4 linked regions of the Homo sapiens genome follow. The protein of the gene in region 1 purifies or fractionates together with the protein of each later gene. This does not show direct contact. Each region holds a gene or a part of one and is shown in the gene's direction. Other genes may lie near its edges.

What was found.
Region 2: the proteins of IFTAP (region 1) and IFT122 purify together in Homo sapiens (affinity purification with mass spectrometry; 4 studies listed by BioGRID and IntAct, with this or other methods). This does not show direct contact.
Region 3: the proteins of IFTAP (region 1) and IFT43 purify together in Homo sapiens (affinity purification with mass spectrometry; 4 studies listed by BioGRID and IntAct, with this or other methods). This does not show direct contact.
Region 4: the proteins of IFTAP (region 1) and WDR35 purify together in Homo sapiens (affinity purification with mass spectrometry; 3 studies listed by BioGRID and IntAct, with this or other methods). This does not show direct contact.

The regions. Positions count from the first base shown.
Region 1 is NC_000011.10:36,646,490-36,653,516, forward strand, and holds part of IFTAP (intraflagellar transport-associated protein), read left to right. Parts: intron 1-1,526; coding exon 1,527-1,666; intron 1,667-7,027. UniProt on the Homo sapiens protein: Seems to play a role in ciliary BBSome localization, maybe through interaction with IFT-A complex.
Region 2 is NC_000003.12:129,478,224-129,485,250, forward strand, and holds part of IFT122 (intraflagellar transport protein 122 homolog), read left to right. Parts: intron 1-1,542; exon of another isoform or gene 1,543-1,561; coding exon 1,562-1,699; intron 1,700-3,306; coding exon 3,307-3,471; intron 3,472-5,261; coding exon 5,262-5,459; intron 5,460-7,027. UniProt on the Homo sapiens protein: As a component of the IFT complex A (IFT-A), a complex required for retrograde ciliary transport and entry into cilia of G protein-coupled receptors (GPCRs), it is required in ciliogenesis and ciliary protein trafficking.
Region 3 is NC_000014.9:75,988,737-75,995,763, forward strand, and holds part of IFT43 (intraflagellar transport protein 43 homolog), read left to right. Parts: intron 1-148; coding exon 149-241; intron 242-7,027. UniProt on the Homo sapiens protein: As a component of IFT complex A (IFT-A), a complex required for retrograde ciliary transport and entry into cilia of G protein-coupled receptors (GPCRs), it is involved in ciliogenesis.
Region 4 is NC_000002.12:19,980,105-19,987,131, reverse strand, and holds part of WDR35 (WD repeat-containing protein 35), read left to right. Parts: intron 1-2,085; exon of another isoform or gene 2,086-3,011; intron 3,012-4,597; coding exon 4,598-4,669; intron 4,670-6,348; coding exon 6,349-6,441; intron 6,442-7,027. UniProt on the Homo sapiens protein: As a component of the IFT complex A (IFT-A), a complex required for retrograde ciliary transport and entry into cilia of G protein-coupled receptors (GPCRs), it is involved in ciliogenesis and ciliary protein trafficking.

The DNA.
Region 1 (7,027 bases):
TCTCTGGGTGTGAAATGTTTGGGAAATGTACTTAATGTTGCCTAACCATGCTAATGTGTTATAGTAGTGACATTTGTTGGTTCTAAGTTTGAGTGTTTAATTTGATCCAGTAAAATAAAATATGTAACAAAAATGCTTATTTAAAGAAAGTTCGTAATGTGACATTGTAGGATAAGAGCATGGGCTCTGTATGTAGATAGACTGTCCAGCTCTGCCGTTTTTAGCTGTGGGATATTGAGTGAGGCTACTGTCTCTTAGCTCATTGTCTGTAAAATGGGAAATAATAGAGCTTTGGGAGTATTAGCTGAGCTAAAGCACATAAAATGATGAGTATGTAAGTGTTGGCTATTATTATTGTTTTTATTTCTGCTAATTAATGAAATCATAGTCTAAGATTTCAGTAATTAGTCATAGCAGAATTGCCTTCTTTGCCATTTCCCCTCCACAATTCTGTTTCCAGGCTGTCTGTGTTCTCTGTTGCTGGAGTCATAAGAATTTTGTAATTATATTTTTTTGTGAAGGGGATATCTATAGTGTTGAGGGATTCATTTCAAATAAGTTTCAGTTTTTGAATATCAATACCTGCTCAATTATCTCCCTATACATGCTGCCATTTGCAGCAGTCAAGTCATGCTTGTTATTAATCACTTCCACTGAGAAGTTAATTAGTGCCTTAATTAGGATCATCTTTGAGAAGTAGGCAGCATCATCCAGAGTCCGCTCCAAGTTATTGGCTAGCTCCAGCAAGCCCTTCTGGTCCTATGAAAACAGGCTGAGGAGGAACCTGTTCTGCTTCTAATTGTTTTTTTGTCCTCCTTAAAGAAAGCTGTGGAAGATCATCAGTTGTCTGTGATGCATCCATGTACTATCATACCTGCAAAAATCAGGAGACATATCTGCTTATAATGGATCAATCAGAAAACCAAGATGGGTTATTGAATTCTTGAGATTGTGCTTAACAAGCAGGAAACATGTTGCTGCTGTTCTTTGCAAGTGTTGAAAATTAGACCATGCATTCTGAATATGACAGAATATTTCACTTTTCTGCTGAAAGTTAAAGTACTTTCCTTCTGGCATTACTGTTTTTTAACATATATTTTTGAAATATTGCCATATTGTTACAGGATGAAATCAGTACTCCATTTTCTTTCTCTTTATCCCTCCAGGAAAATATGGGAAAATGAAGCAAAAGTAACATCTTATCACCTTATTTTCATATAAAAGTAGAAATTGAGTTGAGAATAAAAGGGACAGTCAGGTTACTCCAAAAACAGTACTCCTCCAGACATTTTGGGGGGACTCTTACGTTTGCAACGATAAAATAAAAATAAATGCACTAATGGCTTCTATTATGAGGAAAGGGCAATCCCTTGAGTCCAGTTCCCAAAGGAGGACAGGCATTGTGAAATGGATCTACATTACATGAGCATATTTGCTTCATTTTCTTCGACTTCTGGGCATTTAAATGATTTAGGTAAATTGTGAACTTTGCGAAAGGCTCAGTTGAAATGTTTTGTATCCAACAGATTTGCTGCTGCTTCCAGGAGAAGTGGAGCAGGATGTAAGCACCAGCATTCCTTCCTGTATCCCTTTTGTGGCCCAGCCTCCTACCTGTGAAGTGAAGCCAAAGCCCAGTGTTAAAAGAATGGACAAACAGACGGAAGAGGTACTCCACAGGGAATTCAGTCATTCTCCACACTGCCTTGATTTTGTAATTCATCCCTTCAAAGAAATGCTGCATGCTTCTGTATTTTTCTAACATTTGGGAAAATATAAAATTCAAGTTGCTTAATTGGTCCCTCTCACAGCCATCTATCTCAAATGCATACATTTCTTTTTAAACACATAGAGCAATTATGTTTTTATGTGGAAACCATTTTTGTTTTACAGTGTATGCCATGCCACAGATCAGTGCTACCCAAGGACTACACAATAGAAAGGACGGACAGTTTTCTTGCCCTTTTTAGTTTGAACTGGCCGTTTTTATTATTACTGATAAGGTTCTATAAACTTTTGAATTAGTTGAGGTAAGGCCAGGCTGCTATAACAGAGAATCCTAATAATAATTCAATGGCTGAAAAGAGATAGATGTTTATTTCTCTTATTTACAGCCTATATAGAGCCCTTAAAATGAGCAGGTGGCTCCTTTTTGGGGGGTCATCAGGGACCCAGGTTCCTTCTTTCTGGATGTCCATTATATTTTAGGACATTGTCCTCACCTGCGTGTTCCAGGTCAGGTCATCATCGTACCTGGAGGGGAGGAGAGAAGAACATGGGGGCAGCATGTTTCCCCAAGGCTTAGGACTCAGGGTCCTTAATGTCGGCTCACATTCCATTGGTGACCACTTAGTCACATGTTCATACTGGCCACAGGGGAGGCTGAGAAATGTCACCTAGAGATGAAAATGGAATCTATGCCATATATTTACTCTTGCAAATGTGCAACTTGAAAGTCATCTTTAGCTATCATTTTGCAGCTCTTCTACATATGCTTAATAAACATGTATCAATAGAGACTGTTGCTAGTGCTGGTAGTGACCTTTCTCACCCTCCTTACTGGAACACAAAGCAGGATCAGGCACAAGAAGTTGTTAAGGGCTCTTTATTATTGCTTTCTAACAAAATCCTTAGGGTCTTTTTGGATTATTTAATCATGAGGTACTAGTCTTGTTACTAAAAGATATTCTGTTATAGAATTAGCCATTCAGTCATAAATAATCCACACATTTCAGTTTTAAATTGCCACTTTCTAATAAGTACTTTTGTTCACTGACATCATGAAAGTATATCCAGGATGCGTGCAGGCTTATATTAAACTCCCAAATTGATTACTGGCTAAACTGGTAGGGACAGCCACTTTTCAATATGCTTTTTGAATTATAGATTGCTTTCTCTGAGTTGTAAAAAGCTAAAATTATAAGACTATTTCTAGAAGGACTCAATTTCTTTTTTAAGATTTGTTCATGCTGTTGACTTCACTTGTGGCCATAAAAGTTATTGGACCAGCCAGTAGACATGGCACCTAGTACTTTTATAGAAATACAATTTTATTTCAGTACAATTTGAGAATATATATAATCTAGTACAATTATAGAAATTGTTACAAAGTGGTTTTAATTAATGGGTTAAAAAAACTGAATGATTTCTGGAATCTATCAAATAGCAGTATAAATCAAGTTGAGACCCCATATATGGTGGTATATTTAAGAGGAATATAAATTTCCTACCAGACATGTGGACATTTTAAAATGTTGGAATCAAAATGATACAAGCCACAGATGAACAACTTCTGCTGTTTTTTGAATATCTGAAGTAACATCTTGGTTGGGAATTTTTATTTCTAATTACTATTTTTTAGAGTAACTTTTCACAACCGTCTAGAATCACAATACAGGTTGAACATTCCTAATGGGAAAATCCAAAATGCTCCAAAATTTGAAACTTTTTGAGGGCTGACATGATGCTCAAAGGCAATGCTCATTGGAGCATTATGGATTTCAGATTTGGGGATTAGGGATGCTCAACTCGTATATATTCTGCAACCCTTCCAAAATCTGAAATCCAAAACACTTCATCCCAAGCATTTTGGAGAAGAGATATTCAACCTGTACTGTACCAACACTGCCTTGGTTTGATAACATTCATCTTAAAGCACCCAGTGCTAGTAAAAGAACATAATCATTAGTTTATAGCAAATGGGTCCTGAAGGGCTTACTGAAAGGCCATTTTGGGATTAGAGATGATGGTTTCTTTCTGTGATTTCAATCTGAAAAGCTGAAAATGTATTCTGGATGTCCTTCCTAACTTTCTCTTAATTGCCTATTAAGATTCCATCAACTTTCTGATATGAATTGGACCAACTCAATGTTTTACCTAATTTTGTTTTTTTTAATTTTTAAATTAACATATAATAATTGTATGTATTTATGGGGTATAGTGTGATATTTTGGTACTATATATGTGTATGATCAAATCAGGGTAATTAGCATATCCATCACTTCAAACATTTAACATTTATTTGGTTCAGATTTTTTCCCTAATTTTACCACTGGTTCTTTTTTTTTTTTCCAAAAAAAAAATATATTTTTATTATACTTTAAGTTCTAGGGTACATGTGCACAACGTGCAGGTTTGTTACATATGTATACATGTGCCATGTTGGTGTGTTGCACCAACATTTACATTAGGCATATCTCCTAATACTATCCCTCCCCCCTTCCCCCACCCCACAACAGGCCCTGGTGTGTGATGTTCCCCTTCCTGTGTCCAAGTGTTCTCATTGTTCAATTCCCACGTATGAGTGAGAACATGCGGTGTTTGGTTTTTTGTCCTTGCGATAGTTTGCTGAGAATGATGGTTTCCAGCTTCATCCATGTCCCTGCAAAGGACATGAACTCATCATTTTTTATGGCTCCATAGTATTCCATGGTGTATATGTGCCGCATTTTCTTAATCCAGTCTATCATTGATGGACATTTGGGCTGGTTCCAACAATTTGCTATTGTGAATAATGCCGCAATAAACATACGTGTGCATGTGTCTTTATAGCAGCATGATTTATAATCCTTTGGGTATATACCCAGTAATGGGATGGCTGGGTCAAATGGTATTTCTAGTTCTAGATTGCTGAGGAGTCGCCACACTGTCTTCCACAATGGTTGAACTAGTTTACAGTCCCACCAACAGTGTAAAAGTGTTCCTGTTTCTCCACATCCTCTCCAGCATCTGTTGTTTCCTGACTTTTTAATGATCACCATTCTAACTGGTGTGAGATGGTATCTCATTGTGGTTTTGATTTGCATTTCTCTGATGGCCAGTGATAATGAGCAGTTTTTCATGTGTCTGTTGGCTGCATAAATGTCTTCTTTTGAGAAGTGTCTGTTCATGTCCTTCACCCACTTTTTGATGGGGTTGTTTTTTTCTTGTAAATTTGTTTAAGTTCTTTGCAGATTCTAGATATTAGCCCTTTGTCAGATGAGTAGATTGCAAAAATTTTCTCCCATTCTGTAGGTTGCCTGTTCACTCTGAGGGTAGTTTCTTTTGCTGTGCAGAAGCTCTTTAGTTTAATTAGATCCCATTTGTCAATTTTGGCTTTGGTTGCCATTGCTTTTGGTGTTTTAGACATGAAGTCCTTGCCCATGCCTATGTCCTGAATGGTAATGCCTAGGTTTTCTTCTAGGGTTTTTATGGTTTTAGGTCTAACATTTAAATCTTTAATCCATCTTGAATTAATTTTTGAGTAAGGTGTAAGGAAGGGATCCTGTTTCAGCTTTCTACATATGGCTAGCCAGTTTTCCCAGCACCATTTATTTAATAGGGAATCCTTTCCCCATCTCTTGTTTTTGTCAGGTTTGTCAAAGATGAGATGGTTGTAGATGTGTGGTATTATTTCTGAGGGCTCTGTTCTGTTCCTTTGGTCTATATCTCTGGTTTGGTACCAGTACTATGCTGTTTTGGTTACTGTAGCCTTGTAGTATAGTTTGAAGTCAGGTAGCGTGATGCCTCCAGCTTTGTTCTTTGGCTTAGGATTGTCTTGGCAATGCAGGCTCTTTTTTGGTTCCATATGAACTTTAAAGTAGTTTTTTCCAATTCTGTGAAGAAAGTCATTGGTAGCTTGATGGGGATGGCATTGAATCTATAAGTTACCTTGAGCAGTATGACCATTTTCATGATATTGATTCTTCCTATCCATGAACATGGAATGGTCTTCCATTTGTTTGTGTTCTCTTTTATTTCGTTGAGCAGTGGTTTGTAGTTCTCCTTGAAGAGGTCCTTCACGTCCCTTGTAAGTTGGATTCCTAAGTATTTTATTCTCTTTGAAGCAATTGTGAATGGGAGTTCACACATGATTTGGCTCTCTGTTTGTCTGTTATTGGTGTATAAGAATGCTTCTGATTTTTGCACATTGATTTTGTATCCTGAGACTTTGCTGCAGTTGCTTATCAGCTTAAGGAGATTTTGGGCTGAGACGATGGGGTTTTCTAGATAGACAATCATATCATCTGCAAACAGGGACAATTTGACTTCCTCTTTTCCTAATTGAATACCCTTTATTTCTTTCTCCTGCCTGATTGCCCTGGCCAGAACTTCCAACACTATGTTGAATAGGAGTGGTGAAAGAGGGCATCCCTATCTTGTGCCAGTTTTCAAAGGGAACGCTTCCAGTTTTTGCCCACTCAGTATGATATTGGCTGTGGGTTTGTCATAAGTAACTCTTATTATTTTGAGATACATCCCATCAATACTTAATGTATTGAGAGTTTTTAGCATGAAGGGCTGTTGAATTTTGTCAAAGGCCTTTTCTGCATCTATTGAGATAATCATGATTTTACCACTGGTTCTACACACATACATAATTGTATATAGAATTATGTGTATAGAATTACCTTGCCTTAGTTACTTTATTTTGATGAACTTTGGAAGTTTGAAGCTGCTTCAAGCTGCTTTGTTCTGTAGACAGAACAAAGAGAGTTGTTATTAGGAGGATGAAAATTTGTGATACCCACCCTCTCCCCGTGAAAACTGTAGGAGAGGTCATAGAAGAAACTTGTGTGGTATTTTAATAGGAGCTCTCCTGTTTTTCCAATTCATAATAGGACTCTAAAAATTTTCACCTATAAAGACAGTTTATTTACCATATTACTTTGTATAGTAGCCTACAGCTAAATGCTGCCATTATTGATGTAAGCATTAGTTCTATTTTCTTTAGTTTGCCTATGTGGTACTATGAATGAAAACAATCTCTCCATCAACAGTGTCTCTGTTAGAATAAGTCACATGAGAAATTTTAAGGGGACTCAAAGTTTTCCAATAGTGTACAAATTTTATTCCCTGAGAGGCTACAAAAAAGTTTCAATTAGATTTGAAATTAGACACCTGAAATCCACATATTTCTTTCAGCTCCTTAGGCAAAAATAACAAGTTAATAACTTAATTCATGGTTGTTTTTGTTTAGCAGCAGGGGACTTGGTGTTCCATTGCACAAAGTCTTTACTGAAATAAATCATAATTTCAGTTTGTAATCTAA
Region 2 (7,027 bases), on another chromosome or scaffold:
CAGCAGCATGTTGAAGGAGTTGGGCTGAATTCCATTTGTGCTCCCCCCCCAGTGATAGGGTGCCCACCTCATGGTTTTAAAACTGGTCACTAGAAAACAAGTCTGTTCCATCAAACTAAGTGGTGCTTATTGGCTTTCATTTTCCTGGCATCTGGATGAACCAGACTCTATCAGCAAGTCATGAGCCATAAACTGGAGAATGTTTTTTTGTTTTATTTTATTATTTTTTAAAAAATATTTTTCTTGAGACAGACAGGGTCTTGCTCTGTTGCCCAGGCTGGAATGCAGTGGCACAATTATGGCTCACTGCAGCTTTGACCTCCCAAGCTCAAGCGGTCTTCCTCCTGAGTAGCTGGCACCACAGGCACATGCCACCACACCCAACTAATTTTTTATTTTTAGTAGAGACGCGAGGCTGTACTTTGGGAGGCTAAGGCGGGAGGAATGCTTGAACCCAGGAGTTTGAGACCTGTCCAGCTTCCTAAAGTACTGGGATTATAGGTGTGAGCCACTGTGTCTAGCCAAGAATACCTTGTTCTATTGCAGAACATCTTGTCATACTGGGATTAGATATACTTTAATGACTTAAAACATAAATTGGTGTACAGAATGAAGATAGTTTTTATTGATAAGCATATACACATAAAATTTGTATCAACTCAGTAATTGTCAAGGAAGTTTTAATTCCTGAAAGATTTTTTTTCATAGAAAAATATTTCTCAAGATTCTTAGAGAGTGTCTAAGTCAATGCCAAGAGAAGTTTGGAAAGACTTTGAGAGAAGGCTAGCCCAGCATCTTGGAAGTAGAGGTGGATTTAGTTTTACATAGTTCTGTTGGAGGTGATAAAAGAGAAGAATTCCTTAGGAATCACTGTAGTGTAAAATACTATTAAAATCTCTCAAAAGCCTAGAACTGGGCTGGGTGCAGTGGCTCATGCCTGTAAATCCCAGCACTTTGGGAGGCCAAGGCAGGATGATTGCTTGAGGCTAGTAGTTCGAAAGCAGTCTAGAAAACAGAGACCCCATCTCCACCAAAAAAAAAAAAAAAAAAAAAAAATTATTTAATTAGCTGGGTGTGGTGGCGCTTGCCTGTAGTCCCAGCTACTTGGGAGGCTGAGGCAGGAGAATTGCTTTAGCCAGAAATTGGAGGCAGCAGTGAGCTATGATAGCGCCACTACACTCCAGCCTGGGTGACAGAGTGAGACTCTGTCTCAAAAACAAATAATAAATAAATAATCAAAGTTAGAACTCCAAGCGGTTTAGGGTTGCTACAAATTACAGGATAGATGTGGCAAGTATGTGTACTTTTGAGTGCTGCCTCTGGCCTAGGCTGCCTGGGTGGGGGTTTGCATTGAAGATCTGAGGCTGAATTGGGCTCCGTGGGGAAGCCTTGCATGGAGTCTTGGATTAACGATGCCAATCGTGGGGTCTACATTGGGTTAGATAGATGGATACTGAATGTGTAGGTATTTTCTCCCCTTAGGGACAGAAAGATCTCCTTGGGGAGGTCTGGGGGCACTTATTCTGTTGAATTTCCATGCAGAGCTGGGTTTGCTTCCTAGGAGAAACGGCTGCAGTGCCTGTCCTTCAGCGGAGTGAAGGAGCGGGAGTGGCAGATGGAGTCTCTCATTCGTTACATCAAGGTGATCGGTGGCCCTCCTGGAAGAGAAGGCCTCTTAGTGGGGCTGAAGAATGGACAGGTGAGTGCTCCCTCACGTCTCCTGTCAGGCTGATAATCTGCATGCACACGTGGGTGACCCGTCTAGCAATGACTCTGAGCTGGGTTCTCAGGGCAGGAAAAGGGCTTCTCTCCTCCATGGGTGAATTGTGGGGCAGCCTGAGTTCAGTTTTTTGAGGACAGCCTCAGGCCAAAGGTGCTGTGGCCCTCACACTCCTAGCAGGCCCACGTTTTGGCAGAGTTGAGCTATAACCTTTGGCTACATGTAGAGTGTATTAGTGGCTTAAGGTCTCCAGAAGGTGGGAGATTTGTTAGAGATGTTGCTTCTGTGGATTTCTAGAGGGAGGCAGAGATCGTTACCTAGGTCAGCTCCTGATTAGGGCAGCGAGTGGATTAAGGCAGTGCGTTCCAGCATGTGTCCTAAAGAATGCTGGGTCCTCAAGATACTGATAGATGTCATAAGCAAAATGGGCCCTTTGGCCAGTTAGATGTGGGATATCCAGGTTACACAAAATTCTGTGTGTGTGTATACATGTGTACACGTGTGTTCTTTGCTCAGCATAAGAAAAGTTCTAAGTAGGCTGCTACATGGAACTTTGAAAGTGACAATGTAGCTGCATTAGCCTGACAGCCAAGCTGTGCAGCAGATGGCTTATGGCTGAGGCTTGTCAGGTCTTTGCTGGGGATGGAAGTCACAGGGCATGAGAGCAGTGGGTGAAGTCAAGCAGCAATGCCAAGGGGAGGAAGGGCCGCTTATTTCTCAGGCAGCTCTCACTTCCAATGGGAGCATGGACTATGGGGTCAGGTGGGCCGGAGGTCGTGTTCTTACTTAGCTACTCACTGGCTTTGTCATCCTGGGCAGGTCACTTTACCTCTGTGAGGCTGGTTTTACATGAGGATAATACCACATATTTCATAGGGCTGTCAAAAACAGATATCATCAGGGTTGGGAGTTAAAGCCAATGTTAAAAACAAAACAAAACAAAAAAAACACCAGGGGTATTAAAACAGGCATGGTGGAGGGTACCTGTTTTCCCAGCTACTCAGGAGGCTGAGATAGGAGGATCACTTTGAGCCCAGGAGTTTGAGGCTGCAGTGTGATATGATTATACCTGTGAATAGCCACTGCGATCAGCCTGGGCAACATAGCAAGACCTTATCTCTAAAAAAAATTTTTTTTAAACCAGGGATATCAGTAAATGATAGCTATCATGATCACTATCATCATTATTATAATTTTCTACCACATGTCTTGTCAGTGTTCATAGTAGCTTTTTCCTGTGTTAGTTCGTGACTCAGATCTCTGCTAGGTGGCATCTCCTAAAGCTGCAGTTTGGGTAATGTCATCAACAAATCCCCAGTCCGAACAGACACTGAAGTGAGCTCGGCCTGTCTCAGGGCTGTCATTACTTCTGCAGCCTCTGATGAACCTCGCTTCTGGCCTCCTAAGGATAAGCCATTGCCCCCCACCCCCCTCTTTCTTTTGATGAGTCCTTTTCCCTGCACAGAGCTTCTGGTGAAGGTGGTGGGAGTTGTTCTTGCAGAGCACATGGGATTCCAACGGCCTGGCAGTGGGCCAGGATCTTGTTGCCATGGTGACTGACACTGTTTTCGCTGAAATTTTGCCAGATCCTGAAGATCTTCGTGGACAATCTCTTTGCTATCGTCCTGCTGAAGCAGGCCACAGCTGTGCGCTGCTTGGACATGAGTGCCTCCCGTAAGAAGCTGGCCGTGGTAGATGAAAATGACACTTGCCTGGTGTATGACATCGACACCAAGGAGCTGCTTTTTCAGGTGAAGTCCCTGAGGGGGCCCAGGGACATCATCCTTTGATTAGAGACTCTCCTCTAGCTTCCCAGTCCCTGCAGGAGGCTCTCCTGCTCTGGCCCAGGCAGGTCTCTGGGAGGGGCAGGGGCCAAGCACATGCACAGAGTCCCAGAGGCCCTGGGCCACAACCTGCTCCTCCCACACAGGCACAAGCCGCAGGGCCTGGACCGGCCTCTTTAACTTTGGTTTCCTTGCCAATGGAAACCGAAGGCTCTGAGCCAGCAGAGCCTTTCTTAAGCGTTTACCATGAACAAGAAATGGGGCAATGACTCTGAGAGGGGTGTGACGTTGGCACTCAGTGAATGGGGCGATGGATGCACTTCCTTTGCAGAAGTCTGTGTCTCACCTGCTGCAGGCCTGCCTGTGTCTATGCGCACCTACAGCGTGGGAAGGAAACAGGATGTTTTGTCATCTGAAAGGGGGAAGGGGATGGGCAAGCCTGGCCTTCTACTTAATTCACAAGAATGCTAGAAGAGCCAGCAGAATGCGAAGTGCTTGGATCTTTGGGGTTGTAGGCGTTGTTCAGTGGAGTCATCCAGCCCTGTGGCCTGAGGAAGTGTGTCACCAGAGAAGACAGCCCGGCAGCTCTGTGCCCCGGGCCTGGTTGGCTTTCTGCTGGGCTCGCGCCATTCTTTCTCTCTTTAGGTCTTTGTAGGTGGTCAGGACTGGTTTTCCAGAGTGAAGTTCCCCCCAAAGCTGGAGCCCCTCCTGACTGGTTTCCTCGGCCACTGCAGGGTTTCCTGATGTTATGGGCAGATTCAGTCCCCTTACCAGGCTCCTCCTTGTTCTCAGCAGCAGAATCGATGGGGGAGGGGTCTGGAGTGGGGAGCAGCCTCAGTCAATTAGAAGGAGTTACCTGGCCACCTCTAGCCCAGAGGTAACTCCATGTCAGTCTCAACTCACTCATGTCCTTGAGAGAGTAGAATGGTTTCGGGGAAAGAGAGGGCATAGCCTTCAAGCTGACCTGGGCTTGGGTCCTGCCTGCATCCCTTACTGTGTGATCTTAAGTTAGTGAGCCTCTCTGAGCCTTAATTACTTTTCTCTAAAATGAAATTAGTAATTGCCCCTTACAGAATTGCTACAGGAATACACTAGATACTACAGTGCCTAGCTCAGTGTTGAGCACAAAATGGGGCCTGAAATGTTACTTCCCTTCTCCCCAGCCTCACCTCCCACCTATAGGGGGCATAGCTGGCCCCAAATGTGAATCTTGTGTCTGAGCCTAGAATCATACAAGTGTGGAAGGGCGTCTGTGCTGCCCCATCCCCACTGCTGGCTCTATGGCAGGCTAGGGGAGGTGATTCTCAGCCCTGCCAGGAGACATCAGCATTCCCAGCTGTAACATTGCCTGCTGGCTTTTCCTCTTCTCCACTGCCCCTCCCTCTACACATAAAACAGCTATATTGATTTTTTCTCATTATAAAAAACAATCCATGCTGATTATAAAAGATTTAGTCATTATAAAAGATCCTAGGCAGAAAGGTATGAGCATATTTCAGGAGAATAATTTTTTTTCAAAAGTAATACTTGCTTACTCAAAAATTCCAACAACACGCAGGTGCATGGAGGGGCTTGCCTCTGTTCATTTCTCTTGCCTCTGTTCATTTCTTTGTGGTCCCCTTTCATCCTTTTCCCTCCATCCCACTGTAAGCAATTTAGTGGGATTCAGTCTTTAAGAGGGTATTGGGCTGAAATGTGTGAGCGCTGACCAAGCCCAGGGTGGTTCTCACAGGATCCCCACTGTCCCTGTTCCCCAGGAACCAAACGCCAACAGTGTAGCTTGGAACACCCAGTGTGAGGACATGCTCTGCTTCTCGGGAGGAGGCTACCTCAACATCAAAGCCAGCACCTTCCCTGTGCACCGGCAGAAGCTGCAGGGCTTTGTGGTCGGCTACAATGGCTCCAAGATCTTCTGCCTCCATGTCTTCTCCATTTCTGCCGTGGAGGTGCCGCAGGTAACTGGGGGTGCCTGTCCACTCTTAGCACTGGCAAGGCTGACAAGACCAGGGAAGCTGGGCCCTTTGCTGGTGCTTTGGGGAGAGAGTAGCAAGGAGAGAAGAATGGCAGCTGTGAGGTCGTGGGAGGCAGTCTGGGCCTGGAACCTGCCGCCCTGTCTCCACTCCTTGCAACCTGTGTGACTGGGGGCAAACAGCTCAACCTCCCTGAGTATCAGTTTCTTCCTTGTCCCCTTTCTGTAGGGATGGGAGGGGTATGCAGTGTTGTCAGCAGCGTGTGTTTTGCAGAGAGCCCAGCGTGGGGCCGAATGGAGTGAGCAGCAAAGCCGGGAGTCCGGCAGGGTGTGTGTGTGAGTACGTGTGTGATGGTGGTGATGTGTGTGTGAGAGAGAGGGGAGAGAGAGAATGAGTGGGTGGGGGGTGTGGGCTGAGGTCTGTGAGCCAATAAGGGAGCATGGGACTCTGCACAAGCTCTCTGAACCAGGAGGTGGCCAGAACAGAAATGGGGCACTGAAGGGTGGAGCCACAGAATGGGGGAGGGCAGAACCACAGACAGGCGCCTGAGATTGACCTCCCGAATGCAGGATGGTCTCCCCTCCACCTTCTGCACCCCAGGCAGATGGTGCTCACTGTAGAATTGCCATAAAACAGAGACGTGCATAGCGAGAAACTGTAGCCTTCAGCATCCCATCCTCAGGACAGAATCACTCTTAAACATGTTGAAATACATCTGCTTAGCGCTTTTCTACGTGTATATATAATATATGCATAATATACAATTAGGAGCATGTGGTTTTATAAGAACATTTTTAAACAAAAGTGGAATCACACTGCAAATACTTTTCATGACTTTTATGTGTATACGTATTGCTACCTATAGATGGAACCTCAGATTTACTGTATTCCCTGAGCCTGGCCTGTAAACAAGACTTCTCATCCCTTCCTTTATGGCTATCTTCTCATTTCACCTCACATTCGGTTATGGCAGCCCCATCACTGTCTATGAAGTGCTGGCTGTACACTAGTCATCTGGCCTTTTCACTCAACAATCTCCTAAAGCATCGTTCTGTGTCAGTAAATGGTAAATGTTCTTATTCTGCATGGCAAAATTTAGGGTAATTGTAGACTCACATAAATTGTAGGAAATAATACAGAGATCCCTTAAACCCTTTGCCTAGTTTCCCCCAACGGTAACAGTGTGCATAGCTCTAGAGTGATCTTCCCACCCATGTTGGCATGTGTAATCTCCCACCACAGTCATGGCACTGAACACTGCCACCACCACAAGGTCCCTGGTGTTGTGCTTTTTACAGCCAGCACCCCTCCCTCCTGCCTGGTCCCCACCTGCCTTGTATTTACAGCTGCATTTTATTGTGTCTTGTGGATGTTCCACAGCTTTCTTTACCAGTCCTACTGGACATGTTTGCTGCTTATAGCTTTTTTGTATTATTGTAAATAGCAGGCATCTTTCTAGCTAGGTCCTTGCACCTGTCCCAACTTGGCGCCTTGGCATAAATTCCTAGAAATGAAATTGCTGGGTCAAAGCACGTGTACCTTTGAAAGACTTT
Region 3 (7,027 bases), on another chromosome or scaffold:
CTGGATCTCCTGACCTTGTGATCTGCCTGCCTCGTCCTCCCAAAGTGCTGGGATTGCAGCTGTGAGCCACTGCGCCCGGCTGGATTGTCATCTCAGTAGTGGCCCAAATGACATTTGGGTCAGCAGTGCCTTCTGTTTCTCCTTACAGAGGGCCAAGATGGGTCGCCGAGCTCAACAGGAGTCAGCGCAGGCCGAGAATCACCTCAATGGCAAGAATTCCTCTTTGACTCTGACTGGAGAGGTGGGTGCTAAAAAAAAAGAAAATCTGAAGAAATACTGTTTAAGAGTTAGTGATTCCTTAATGACCAAGGATTTGGTATTCCATATTTCTTCTCTTGAATGCCAACCCTTTCTCCTGTCTTGATTTGGGAATTCCCTTCCTTGGCATTTGTCCTTGTAGCAGGAAATGGAAGAACTTTTTTTCCTTGATGCCAGACTAGTTTCTGTGCATTTCCTTATATTCTTAATGTAGAACTTTTTATGTTAGCTGAAGCAAGGGACTGGGAAGTTTCAAAATCCAGTAGGATTCCAGGTTTTTATTTCCGCTGAATAAATGCCAGTGAGGCAGACTGGTGACGTAAGGTTGGATTACACAATTGGACATTGCTCTCGGTGGTGACCTGCGCTTTCTACAGTCTTCCGGCAGGAAGCAGATCATTTACTGGCCTTACTTTCCTGGAAACTTTTCCGAGTAGCCTGGAATTATGGGAAATGATCCAGCTTCTTTGTGGAGGGTGGGTAATTCTGATGAGCAATACTTTTTACTGCCAGGGCACTACTTTTGGCAGCTTACTCAGAGCCCCTTTTTACCTTCCTCTGTCCATTTGAAAAAACTTTGCAAAAGTCAGCCTCAGGGTCATCCTCTGCCAGAAGTTAGCTCTTCTCTAACCTCTCCAGGCTGACTTAGCAGTCCTTCCTTTCACTTCCCATAGTACCTATTGTGAACATATGCCATTATATGTGAATTGTCTTTTTACATGTCTGTCTCCCCCACCGGACAGTGAGTTCCCAGACAGCAGGAAACCTGGCTTCTAGCTTGCTGGCCCATAGTAGGTTTGCAACAGATGAAGAGACCCATGCTGAGAAGCCTAATGGGTCAGGCAGGTGCATGAGCAAATGAACCGGGTACCTGACATGGACACACTTCACTTACATATCACATAGGTAGGAATATTCTTCATTTTCGTAGGAAATGCATTCTCCACCACTTTCTTAAGCTCTCCACATGGCCTTGTCCATTTATCTTTCATTTTCTCCTTTTAGAAGTGTGGGTATGGAGAATCATTACTTTAAGATAACATCTGTGCTGGCCTAGAAAAACTAGCAGCTGACCCCTTGGCATCACTGCCTGGAAGAAACTAGGGGAGTGAGTTAGGGCAGGGGGACTGGGAACTGGAGGCCACATGCCCCCTCTAAAGGGACAACCACTACTTAGCCAAAGCTGGTTGGTGCTGTCGAGAATACAGGCCCAGTATTGCCAGATATGATTCTTCAAGAGATGCTGGCAGTCTAAAATTTTATGTGAAAGCAACACATTTTTAGAGGTTAGCACCTGATTAAGAAAACCTAATCACCATATGGACTGGATATTAAATCATCATATGGGCTGGATTTGGTCCAAGGATTGTCAGTTTGTAACTGCGGCCATGGCACCTCCATTGTGATACTTATTACATTGTATTCTAATTGTTTACATATCTGGTTCTCTCATAAGATATGAGCATCTGGAAGGCAGAGGTTGTGTCTTATCATCGTACCCTATTATCTGTCACAGTGCCTGGCAGAATAGGCCTGCAATTGTTATTGCGCAGGATGAGGTGGGGTCAAGTACATAGTGTGTGATGTACTTACACATTAGAAGCTATGTAGAAGTGTTATGGGGCCTGGGGCAGGGAGGTTGGGAGGCGAGGATAGTGGAGCATTGGAGGCACAGTTAGGAGAGGTGATATAAAGTAGGAATTTGGTGAAAGAAGATATACCAGACCCAACCCTGGATCTCAGGGAGCTTGAACTGCAGTGGTGTATGTATTTAAAGAGAAAACGCGGAAGCAAATGACTGAGCTGATGGAAGCCAATTCTTGGCCTCTGGCACTTTACACTGTTCCACATGGGTCCAGGAGGATTAATTCCAACACCAGATCATTCATTCATTTACTCAACAACTATTTATTGAAGCACACAGTAAGTGCCAGGCACCATTTTGCAGGGTTGGCATATTTCAGTGAACAAAAGAGACAAGATCTCTTGCCATAATGGAAGTTACATTCTCGTGATCACTGGCACCCAGGAAGAATAATTAAAAGTCTACTTAAGGCTAGGCACAGTGGCTGATGCTTGTAACCCCTGTAACCCCAGCACTTTGGGAAGCCAAGGCAGGAGGATTGTTTGAACGTAGGAGTTCACGACCAGCCTGGGCAACCTTGTCTTTGCAAAATATTTAAAAATTAGCTGGGTTTGGGTGGCATGTGCCTATAGTCCCAGCTACTTGGGAGGCTGAGGCAGGAAAATTGCTTGAACCCGGGAGGCGGAGGTTGCAGTGAGCTGAGATCTTGCCATTGCACTCCAGCCTGGGCAACAAGAGTGATATATACATAAATATATAATTAACAATAAGAGTATATATTATATATATATATATAAATATTAACAAGAGTGTGTGTGTGTGTGTGTGTGTGTGTGTGTGTGTGTGTATGTATGTATATATATTTTAAAGTCTACTTAATTGTGAAGGAGGTTATAGCCACCTATGGTAGTTAGGTGAATGAGCCTGTGATGACCTCATTAGGCCTTGAAGCCTTATATGACCCCCATACCAAATCAGCTCCTAGGCTGGGGTCAGTGGGCCCTGCTTGCCTACCATCCACTTCCCTTGGCTCCCATGTGAGAATCATTGCTGTGAGAATATAACTCCATAGTCACAGAGTGTGATGAATCCTTTCAGGGTTTCAGCCATTCAGTAATACCTACTTATTTCGAGGTTTACCTTTTTTTAACTCTGTGCATTACCATTTTTGTGGGAGAACATGATGAAAAGTCATTCTGCTCTTCACCCAACTGTTGCCTCTGAAAGCAAGATGCCAGTTAGGATTCCAGGATCCCTTTCTCCCTGGGCTAATTGAGGTTTAAACAGTGTGGGCAGCCTCCCACGGGGCCAGATGCTCACTGTGCTGTGTGGGACTTTTTGGCTGTTTCTTTCTAAAATTAGATCCCAAGACTTGTGTGTGTGCCCATTTACATTCCGATTCTATTACTTGATATATTTATTTTTGTCCTCTTGCTGACTGTATTCTAGGATGAAGATATCCATGCAAACGTAAATATGGTACCTGGGAGCTGTCAGACATGCTGGAGTTACTTTAGACTTAAGTGGAAATTAGTTCAAACACATGGTTATTTTAAAGCGAGGTAGTGGAGTTGGGAGCTCTGGTGAAGGAAGCAGAAAGAACACAGGGCTTCGCACCAGAGGACTGGGTGCTAATTGCCTGGATTGTGATTAAGTCCACCAATCTCTCTAATTCTCCATTTCATTATCTGTCAAATAGTGATAGTAATACCACCAGGTTGATATGGGGGCAAGTGAGATACGCATTGAGACGCTTTTTAATAAACTGAAAAGCACTGTGCAAGCATTCATTCAATAAATTAGTGAATAAAGGCATATTGGGACAGCACTTTGCTGCTTTTATTAAAGGGCACCGAAGAAAGAGCATGCCAGCCAGAGTCTCTTAGAACTGATTTGGAAATCTGTTCACAGGCTACTACTCATTTATCCATAGGTTGGCTAGTAGGTATCCAGAGCAGAGGGTTTTTTTGTTTGTTTTTGTTTTGAGGCAGGGTCTTGCTCTGTCTCCCAGGCTGGAATGCAGTGGCATGATAATGGCTCACTGCAGCCTTGAACTCCCGGGCTCAAGCGATCCTCCAGTCACAGTCTCCTGGGTAGCTGGGACCACAGGCATGCACCACCACACCTGACTGATTTTTTTTTGTAGAGACGAAGACTTGTTATGTTGCCCAGGCTGGTCTCAAACTCCTGGCCTCAATCGATCCTCCTGCCTTGGCTTCCCAAAGTGCTGGGATTACAGGTGTGAGCCACCACACCCAACCTGGAGAAAAGTTTTTTTGCTTTCTAGTTGCAGCAGGCGTTTCTTAAGAGTCTGTAAAAGCACAGGCCTAGGAGTCATACCAGTCTGGGCTGAAATCCTGGCCCTGTCATACATTAGCTTCTGTGATACTGAGTTAATCTTGCTAAGCCTCATTTTCCTATTATTCCTGTTTTGGTGAAACAGGGATAATAATATTCCATACTTCATAGGATAGCTGGAAAGACAAAGTGATATAACCCTTAACTTAGTCTGACACACACATGCTCAGTATGTTGCCAACCATTATTATTTCTCTAGAACTTGGGCATTCTTTTTATTCCACCTTAACCTCTACTGAGGTTGAAAACTGGTGGCCTTCAGGCTGAATTTGGCCTATAGTCATGTTTTATGTGATCCATACAGGGTTAAGAATTTTTAAATTTGGTTCGCATTTATAAATCAGGAAATGTAATATGGAAATTCAGATTTGGGGCTTCTCTTTAAAATCAGAAGCCCTGGCACAGTGAGAATGCTGGGTTGACATTCCCACATGGCGGCAATTGGCTGGTGCTGCAGCTGCTGATAGCTTACATGCATCCATCCCTCTCCAGTTAACTGCTTAGTACTTTGATACACCTGGTCAGATTTACTCACATTTGATCTGCCTGGTTCCCATTTCCGTCTGAATTGAAAACTCCTGTCTTTTAGGATAGATTAATTTTTCAAGTGGCCTCCTCTATCTATCAGTATTGAATCTGGTTGCCTACAACAGAAACAACTTCAGTACTTGAATCAAACAGGAGCAATTTTTCTTTCACATAGCAAAGAGTCCAGTGGAGGGCAGAGCAGAGTGGGTGCAGTCACTGGAGCATGTCCTGCATTACTCTAGCTCCTTCCAGCTTCCTGCTCTGCTATCTGGAGCCTGTGACTTTTGTTCTCATGGTTGCAAGATGGCTGGTCATTCTCCTGGGATCAGATATGCATTCTAGGTGGGAAGAGAGGGAATTGTTGAAGAGTTCAAGGTGCATGCCAGTAAGAAGGGTGTACCCCTTCTTATCAGGAAAACAGTAGCCAGAGTCCTCACTAAGGAGAGCTCTAGTTTCATTTCATTGGTCAGAACTGGATCTTACAGCCACACTCTCAGTTTCAGGGGAGTTTTTAATGGGCACATTACCACACCATAGCATCGGGGTTTCTTGGTAAGGGAGGTGAGTAGAATGGCTCTTGAGTAGGCAGTTCAAAAATGACATGTCAATTTAAAACAAATAGAAATTATAGAAAGCCCTTTTTTTTTTTTGTAGCCCTGGGTATGAAGAGAAAATTATTTTAGCTTAAAAAAAATGTACATTCTTCTCCAGTTTTTGTTTTGGAGTTGAGTGAAAAAAAATTGTATGCCCTAAGTTCCAGGATATCTGATTCAGTGGCCTCTTCTTGATCTTTTCCTTCTGATTGTCTCCATACCCACTTAGGACGTGGTGCCAGTAGGATGCCTGTGGTTTGGTCCAGGTAATTAAACTCTTCTTCCTGCTCTGAGAGAAGAGGAAAAGTCTCTTTATTTGCTTGGTCATTCGATACATTTCAAATCACTTAACTGTCTAATTTTAAAATTTACCAGAAAGATGAACTCTTTGTGTGATTTTACTAGTTTGGAGTAGATTGGAGTTGTGTCTACTTTTTTAGGGTTGTTGTGAAGATCAAATGAGGTAATGCATGTAAAGTACTTAGCACGGTATCCGGCACACAGAAACCCAAGGAGAAATGATAAGTACTAAGAAAGCTTATGACTACATTTTTTGGGTGGGGTGGGGTGCACCTGTTGCAAATCAGGCTTGGATCACTAGAAGCATGGTTCAGCTAGCAGTTCAGGTTGGAATTATAGGTATTGAGGATTTTGCTGGAAGATAGTTCTATGATGAGTGTCTACATGTCTGTGATGTATAGCTTTCTCTAGGGAGGATGGGTCTGAGAGTTAAACCAGATTTCTCTGCTTGAGCCTTGACCTTCTATTGATTCAAATGATTGTGCCCTCACAGAACTCTTTTAAGGACAGACCCAGATGCTTTCTACCGAAAAGTTACCTTCTACTGAGTTTGGGCAAAAGTAATCTTTGGCAAAACCTCTCCAGGGCTAGCTCATCTTTTGGATGAGCATTTCTTGCTGGGATCTAGACCTGTTTTTGGCTTAGCTTTTATTTTGCAGATTGTCCTTTTAATAATCATCATCATAGCTTACATTGCAACAGTTGCTAGCTATCTGTTCATTACATGCAGTGTCCTAGTTGAGCCTTATGGTAGCTCTTGAAGTAGGTACTCTTATCATCATGTTGTACATGTGAGGACATGGAGACTTTAAGAGTCTGGGTAACTTGTCAGAAGCATTCAGCTAATCTGTGACTCTAGTTGAGTCTTTCTGACTCAAGTGCCTAACCTCTCCTACCTGCTAGATGGGAAGAAGCACAGACCTCCCAGTAGAGAAGAGGATTTTGGAAAGGGCGGAGAGACTTAGGGTCATTCCCTTGGGGTCCTTTTGGAATGGGAGTAAGTTCTCACTTGATCACCCTTATTCGTTCAGTGGTCTAGAGAAGTGTTGGAGTCACAGCTGTTCCCTTTCTCTCCCCCTATTCCCTTGGTGTTCCTCCGAGGACGCAGAACTGAAAGTTAGCCAGATTCCCTCGCAGGAATCTGAGAAATGCTGCTGGGCTCATGTTCCCAAATTAGGCCAATTTCCTCATCCCCCAGCAGCCTCACTCGGCCGGAGCTCCCTTGGCACTTTGCATTACGTCTCTCGCCCTCCGCCTGTCCCCTTACTGGTCTGCCAGCCAGGCAGTTATTTTCAGCCCAATAGGGTTATCTGCTGACCCTTTTTGGTGACATTTTTCTTCTTTCTCACAAAAATAACTCTCCTGATTGGTCACATTTTCCAGCGTTTTTCATAGCCGCTCTCCA
Region 4 (7,027 bases), on another chromosome or scaffold:
ATAATACAGCAATCCTCTACGTCCATAAATCATCTTCTATGGCACCATTGTTAATGTCTATTTAGTATTTCATTATATTGGTATTAATATATCATAATTTGCTTAACCAATTTTAGTATTGGACATTTAGGTGTCTCCACATTTTTACTATTAAAGCAACTGTATCTTTGTATCCAAATCTTTGCATAAATAGTTAATACTTTCTACGATAAATCTCTAGAAATGGCATTCACTGGATCGAAGAGTGTGTACATTTATACAAGTTCCTAATATGTGTACACAAATTACCCTCCAGAAAGTTTGCACCACATTGCATTTCCAGTTTTCAGTTCCCTGCTCTAGAAGGAAAGGAATTAGAACCAGCAATCCATCTTTTTACATCAGGTTTACTTCTCTCACAGGCCAGCTTCCAGTGTTTTGCTGGAGCCCATCTCCCTTCACCTTCTCAGGTACCTTTCTGCCAATTTATCCTCTCTCTCTCCTTTCAATATCAGTCCTCTCTCCTTTTCTCTCCCTCACCAGTGACTTTCATGTTCTAAATCTAATGGACAGCTTTTATTGACTCATCAGGATTTGACTTGAAACATTATTTTTCCAGACAAGAGAATTCAGAATGTTTAAGTTATTGTTATATTTAGACGTACTACTTTTCTCTCCTTCTCTGGTCAGTCCTCAGTCTCTTTGCTAGATTTCCCTCTTCTATTAGAATTCCTGAGAACTTGCTTCTGGGCTCTCTATTCACTTGCTCTATTTATTCTTTCATTCTCATGCCCTTAAATGCCATCTGTGGTATGAGGTGAAGAGCCCCACATTTATATCTCCAGCCCAGTCCTGATTTTTCAGACGTGGGTGTCTCCACTGGAGTCTTTCACAGGTATCTCCTATTTACTGTGTTCAAAACCGAACTCTTGATATTCTTCCAAATCTCTTTCAATTCTCTCCATTTCAGCAAATATCTCCATTTCACTCATTTGCTCAAGCTGGAAATCTTCTCTTTTCCTCCGTTAACAACATCTGCATCAGCAATCCTGTTGCTTTTGTCTCCAAAGTGTATGTTGAACCCATCCTTTCCTTTGTCTCCCCTGCTCCCTCTATAGCTCCAGCTACCATCATCCCTCACCTGGTCTATTGTGAGAATCAGTTTCCCTCCTTCCATTGTCTCTGGCTTCCTCTTAGTCGTTCTTGACACTCTAGCCAGTGTCAGGCTTTTTTTTTTTTTTTTTTTTTTTTTTCCCGAGATGGGGTCTCACTCTGTTGCCCAGGCTGGAGTGCAGTGGTGCAGTCTTGGCTCACTGCAACTTCCACTTCCCGGGTTCAAGCAATTCTCCTGCCTCAGCCTCCTGAGTAGCTGGGATTACAGGTGCGTGCCACCACGCCCAGCTAATTTTTTGTATTTTTTTTTTTTTTTTTAGTAGAGACGGGGTTTCACCGTGTTAGCCAGGATGGTCGTGATCTCCTGACTTCAAGTGACTCGCCCGCCTGGGCCTCCCAAAATGCTGGGGTTACAGGCGTGAGCCACTGCGCCCGGCCCTTTTTTTTTTTTTTTTTTTTAAAGGGACCAGATGATGTCATTTCCTTGCCAAAAGGTATTTAAAGGGCTGACAGCCTGGGTTGGAGCTGCTTGTGGTAGGGTTTGAGGATGATGGTCCTGGGTTGGAGCTGCTTGTGGTAGGGTTTGAGGATGATGGTCCTGGGTTGGAGCTGCTTGTGGTAGGGTTTGAGGATGATGGTCCTGGGTTGGAGCTGCTTGTGGTAGGGTTTGAGGATGACGGTCCTGGGTTGGAGTTGCTGGTGGTAGGGTTTGAGGATGATGGCCCTGGGTTGGAGCTGCTTGTGGTAGGGTTTGAGGATGATGGCCCTGACTAGGATTGAGGTGGCATTTCTTGCTTTTTCTGCTACGACTGCCAAGGCCTCCACCCTCATCCTCATGAGAGGAAATAGAGAGCCCTGGAAGCCAACATTTGCATCAGAGAAAAAGTATATAGGGCCATGGAAGCCAACTGCAGCTGACTGCGCAGTCCTCCGGTACCTGCAGGCAGTGACATTGCCTCAACCTTCCAATATGCCCAGGACAACAAAATTGACCAGAAATCTCAGGTAAGGTGTCCTTAGCTAGACCCAGGGATGCATACAGAGTCCTTTGCAGTCAGTCATTCACACAGAGAAGCAAGGCAACCAGATGATCCTGCCAGAGAATCTGGCGAATATGGTACCATCTCTTTCTCAGAATTGTATTATCCTTATGTGTTGCAAAACAGTCTTCTGTATATTTTGATTCTAGGTTTCAAGCTTATTTTGCAGCATGTAACAGGAATTTCTGTTGAAATTGGGCTGCTGACAACTTTTATGAATGCAAACAAAAGCATTGGCAGTCACGCTTTTCTAAGAGAAAGATTCTCAAAGATTTAGTGTGCTTGGTTATTGGTGTTATTAGCATGATCTTCTGTTCTTCTATGTCATACCTTTTGTTTTCAGTTGCTTTATTACACCTTAATTTTTTAAAAGCCTTCTTTGGACTTTTTGATGTACTTCGGATTGTTGGAATAACTGATTTCATTCTGAAATTCCTTTACATGAGTTTAAAATGCTTTATTTTATTGGTGACTTCTTCGATTATGCCTTTTAAATCCAAGGATTACTGTTATGTGCTTTTAGAAGATTTATGTCAGTATTACCAGATTTTTGTTCACATACCAGTTTGGTTTCATTACCTTATTGGCTATCTGGAGTCTAGTAATGTAACTGAATGGAATCTTGGGATATTATCGCTGGCTTTACTCTACATCATTTAAAACTTTTGGCCTTTTTATGGACATCTGAGAACTTTCAGGTGGGTTTTATGAATATTTTTTACATGATCAAGTTACGGAGTTGCTTCCAGCAAGAGACGTTTTCAGATGTGGATGATATTTGTTCAATATATCAAGCTGAATTTCAAAGCCTGTTCTTAACTGTCAGCATGTGTTTTGTCAAGAGTATGCTACCTTATGGTCTAACAGAGGGCAAACATGGGTGGTCAATCTAAATCTCATATGACCCATTTCACTTAGGTTATAGTGACATCAGAATATGTGGGTGTGTGTATATATGTATATATATATATATATATATATATATATATATATATATGCATTAGAATGGATTTTTCAGTGCTAGAAGTTAAGAAAAATGTTTCCACCAAATATTTTAGAATATTATAATAAAGTTTAAGTATGTTGTACAATTTTTAAAAGATTAAATGAATGAAAGAACCCTGTGTTAAAAAAAATTATGTTCAGCCTAATGTGTGTGTCAGCAACATTTATTCTATCTTAATTGACAGATGATTGCATTGTTAAACTGTACATGTGTACTCTTGTGTTACCAAAACAACTGGGTAATTAGAACTAGTGATTTAGAGGAAATTAGGTATCTTTTCCTGACAATGTTTTCAGAATAAAGGATATTTTTCATAATATTTTAAGATACTTGTTATCTGAAAGTAGAATTTTCTTTAGCATTGGTATAATTCCCATTCTCACAAATTCTTAAGATCTTCATAACATTTGTATTTTAAATGAAAATTTTAAATGCTATGTTTTATGTGTAACAGATTTCTAAGCCAAGATTAATTTATTGAGATGACATTTTAATATTCTCTGTAGGATGGTTAGTAAATTTTTAAGACGTCTTTAGAGGTTTTCATTGCACTTTGGATAAAATCTAAAATTCTTATCATTTTCTACAAATACTTCATAGTTTTTCTTGTGCCTATCACTCCAGCCTTGTTTGATGCAATTTTCTCCCCTGTTCATCCACATAGGCCTTCTTAGAGTTTGTCAAGGGCTCTAGTTGTCTACCTCAGAGCCTTTATGTTGCTGTGTCCTAGCCTGGAATACTCCCCTTCTTTCTCTACCTTTCCTGGCTATCTCCAGTTTACCTCTCAGTCTCAGCTTAAATATCAGTTCTTCTGATAGCCTTCCCTGGTTCCCCATCAATCTAAATTAAGTCACTTCTGCTACTCTTTCTTATTATGCTTTCACATTCCCAGTTTATAGTTACATTTATGTGTATGTGAGTATATATTTAATATTGGTCCCTTAGACTGAAAGCTCTGAGAAGAAAGGGGAAATGACTGTTTTGTTCACCATTTTATATGTAGAACCTTTTGTAATGCATAGCACAGTGTACACATTTCATAAATATTTGTTAAATGAATGAATAAATGAGTGAATATAAGATTCTGTGTAATCTAGTAAAAACCCATTTTCAAAGTCTATGCTCTTTTGATCCCTTGTAAGCTGTAGAGTTTTCAATCTGTAGGCCATAAATATTTCTATTTGTGGTCTTTTGGAAAGGAATAAAAAGCAGTGATGATTATTAATATATGTAATGTATGAGTAAACAATCTTCATTTATATATTTTGCTTTATTTTACCAGAATATCTTTGCAAGGGGTATGTGTTATTGTTCATGTTTATACCATGAGAAAAATATATCAGAATGGGGCATACTTAGAAAAATGATTAATACTGCCCAGGAATACAAAAAGAGTCAAAATCTTATAATATGTCACTTTTACATATTTATCATAGTAGTTTGTTTTGTTTTGTTTTAGATGATGCAAAATTGAGGGGCCTTGCAGCCCCCAGTAACCTTTCTATGAATCAGACTCTTGAAGGTCATAGTGGTGAGTCATTCAATTTCTTTTAAGTCATGTTTGAGTGGTATTTAGGCATTTAGAAAGTTTCTACTTAATGCAGAAATGTCAACATTTTAAATAATGGTAATATTTACAGTACAGATGCTCTTTGAGTTACGATGGGGATATGTTCCAATAAACCCATTGTAAGTTGAAAATGCATTTAATACACCTAACCTACTGAACATCGTAGCTCTGCCTAGCTTACCTTAAATATGCCCAGAAAACACTAGCCTACAGTTGGGCACAATCATCTGACATAAAGCCTATTTTATACTAAAATGTTGAATATCTTATGTAACTTATTGATTTCTGTACTAAAAGTGAAAAACAGAATGGTTGTATGGGCACTCGAAGTACGGTTTCTACTGAATGTGCATTGCATTCCCATCACCGAAAAGTCATTTAAGTAGTACCATTGTAAGTTGGGAGCTGTTTGTAATCATTTCTGTTGAGACATAAGTAATACAACTTAGAGTCATTCAACTTTTACATGATTAAACAACATCTTAAATAAATCTAGAAGAAAATAGCTGTTTTTAATATATTGAAAATACTCCTGTCTATGGATGTTGTATATATAATCCTTTTTAGAATCTGTCCTATGATTCCAGATTAAAGGAGACTGAAGAGACTGGGTGTAGTGGCTAACACCTATAGTTCAAGCACTTTGGGAGGCCAAGGTGGGAAGACTGCATGAGGCTGGGATTTTGGAACCACCCTGGGCAACATAATGAGACCCTGTTTCTACAAAAAATAAAAAAAATTAACCAGGCGTGGTGCTGTGTGCCCGTAGTCCCCAGTACTCAGGAGGCTGAGGTGGGAGGATCGCTTGAGCTCATGAGTTGGAGGCTGCAGTGAGCCATGATTGTGCCACTGCATTCCAGCCTTGGTGACAGTGCAAGATCCTGTCTCAAGAAAAAAAAAGACTAAAGACTGAAGATGTATAACAACTAAATGCACTGTATAATCCTAGATTGGATCTTGGAATGAGAAGAACAAGTGTCTATAAAGGACATTATTTGGACAATTGGTAAAATTTGTATATGGACTGTGAGTTAGATAATAGTATATCAGTGTTAAACTTCCTAATTTGTAATATGATTATGGAAGAGAATGTCTTTATTTTTAGGAAATGTACACTAAAGTATTTAGGGATTAAAAAATTAAAAGTCATCAATTATTCACGTACCCTAGAGGTTTAAGATATGCTCAAGAGTGTTTTACTAATAGAATGGAAAACGAGTGAGAGGTGGGCAGAAGAGAGATTATAGGACATATCTACCAAAAATGATAAAAGTCCCCTAAACAAGTACTTGTTATGGTGTCCTTTGAACATCATTATTTTTGGGAGTCAGGCCAATTGAGTAAACCATGCTTGTATTTGTTTCTGTCATCAGGTATATGGTAGTTCTGGTAGCTAGCCATGATTGGTGTCTTTACTGGGATGAAATAGGGATAGATATGAAAAATAGTATTATGCATTGTTGTAGAAAATTAGTGATATCAATAACTGCATCTTATGAATAGGTTTTGAGGAATATTAAAGACTAGTTAGCTGTACAGGAACCATATTGATTTTAACATGATCTTGGTGTTTATATAAAAATGTGAATTTGAAATTAATTGTAACCTTTAAGTTTCTAAATTGTTTTATAATGTTCTAGGTTCTGTTCAAGTTGTAACATGGAATGAGCAGTATCAGAAGTTGACTACCAGTGATGAAAACGGGCTTATCATTGTGTGGATGTTATATAAAGGTATACTTTACTAGGAGAGATTATTTAATTTTTCACAAGTTGGCATCTGGATCACAGTATTTGGATGGGTAAATAACATCTCCAAAATAGACCCCTTTTACTAACAACAGGAGTTCATCCTGACTGCACAGTGATAATATTTCTGGATTTATTGCTGCCTACTTTTCACTTTTTTAAAACTTTAACCCTGTTATTAAGAAAGTGAATTAGGTGACTGTTGGCCATCTCCAAAATGAACTTAGACTCTTAGCAGAAGAATAGCTTCTACTTGAGATAAGTCTTTTTTTTTTTCCAGATTTCCAATAAGAATTACTTCTAGGTAGTTCCAGTTTATAATTACATTCATGTGTGTGTGAGTGTGTATTTAATATTGGTTCCTCAGTAGACTGTAAGCTCTGAGGGGAAAGGGGAAATGACTGTTTGTTCATTTTATACGTAGAACCTTTTATAATACATAGCACAGTGTACATGTTCAATAAATATTTGTTGAATGAATGAATAAATGAGTGGCTAGAGTTATCTCAGTAGATAAAAACACATTTAGTAAGAAGTCAAAGGGAATAATTCACTTCCTGCATGGGCCAGT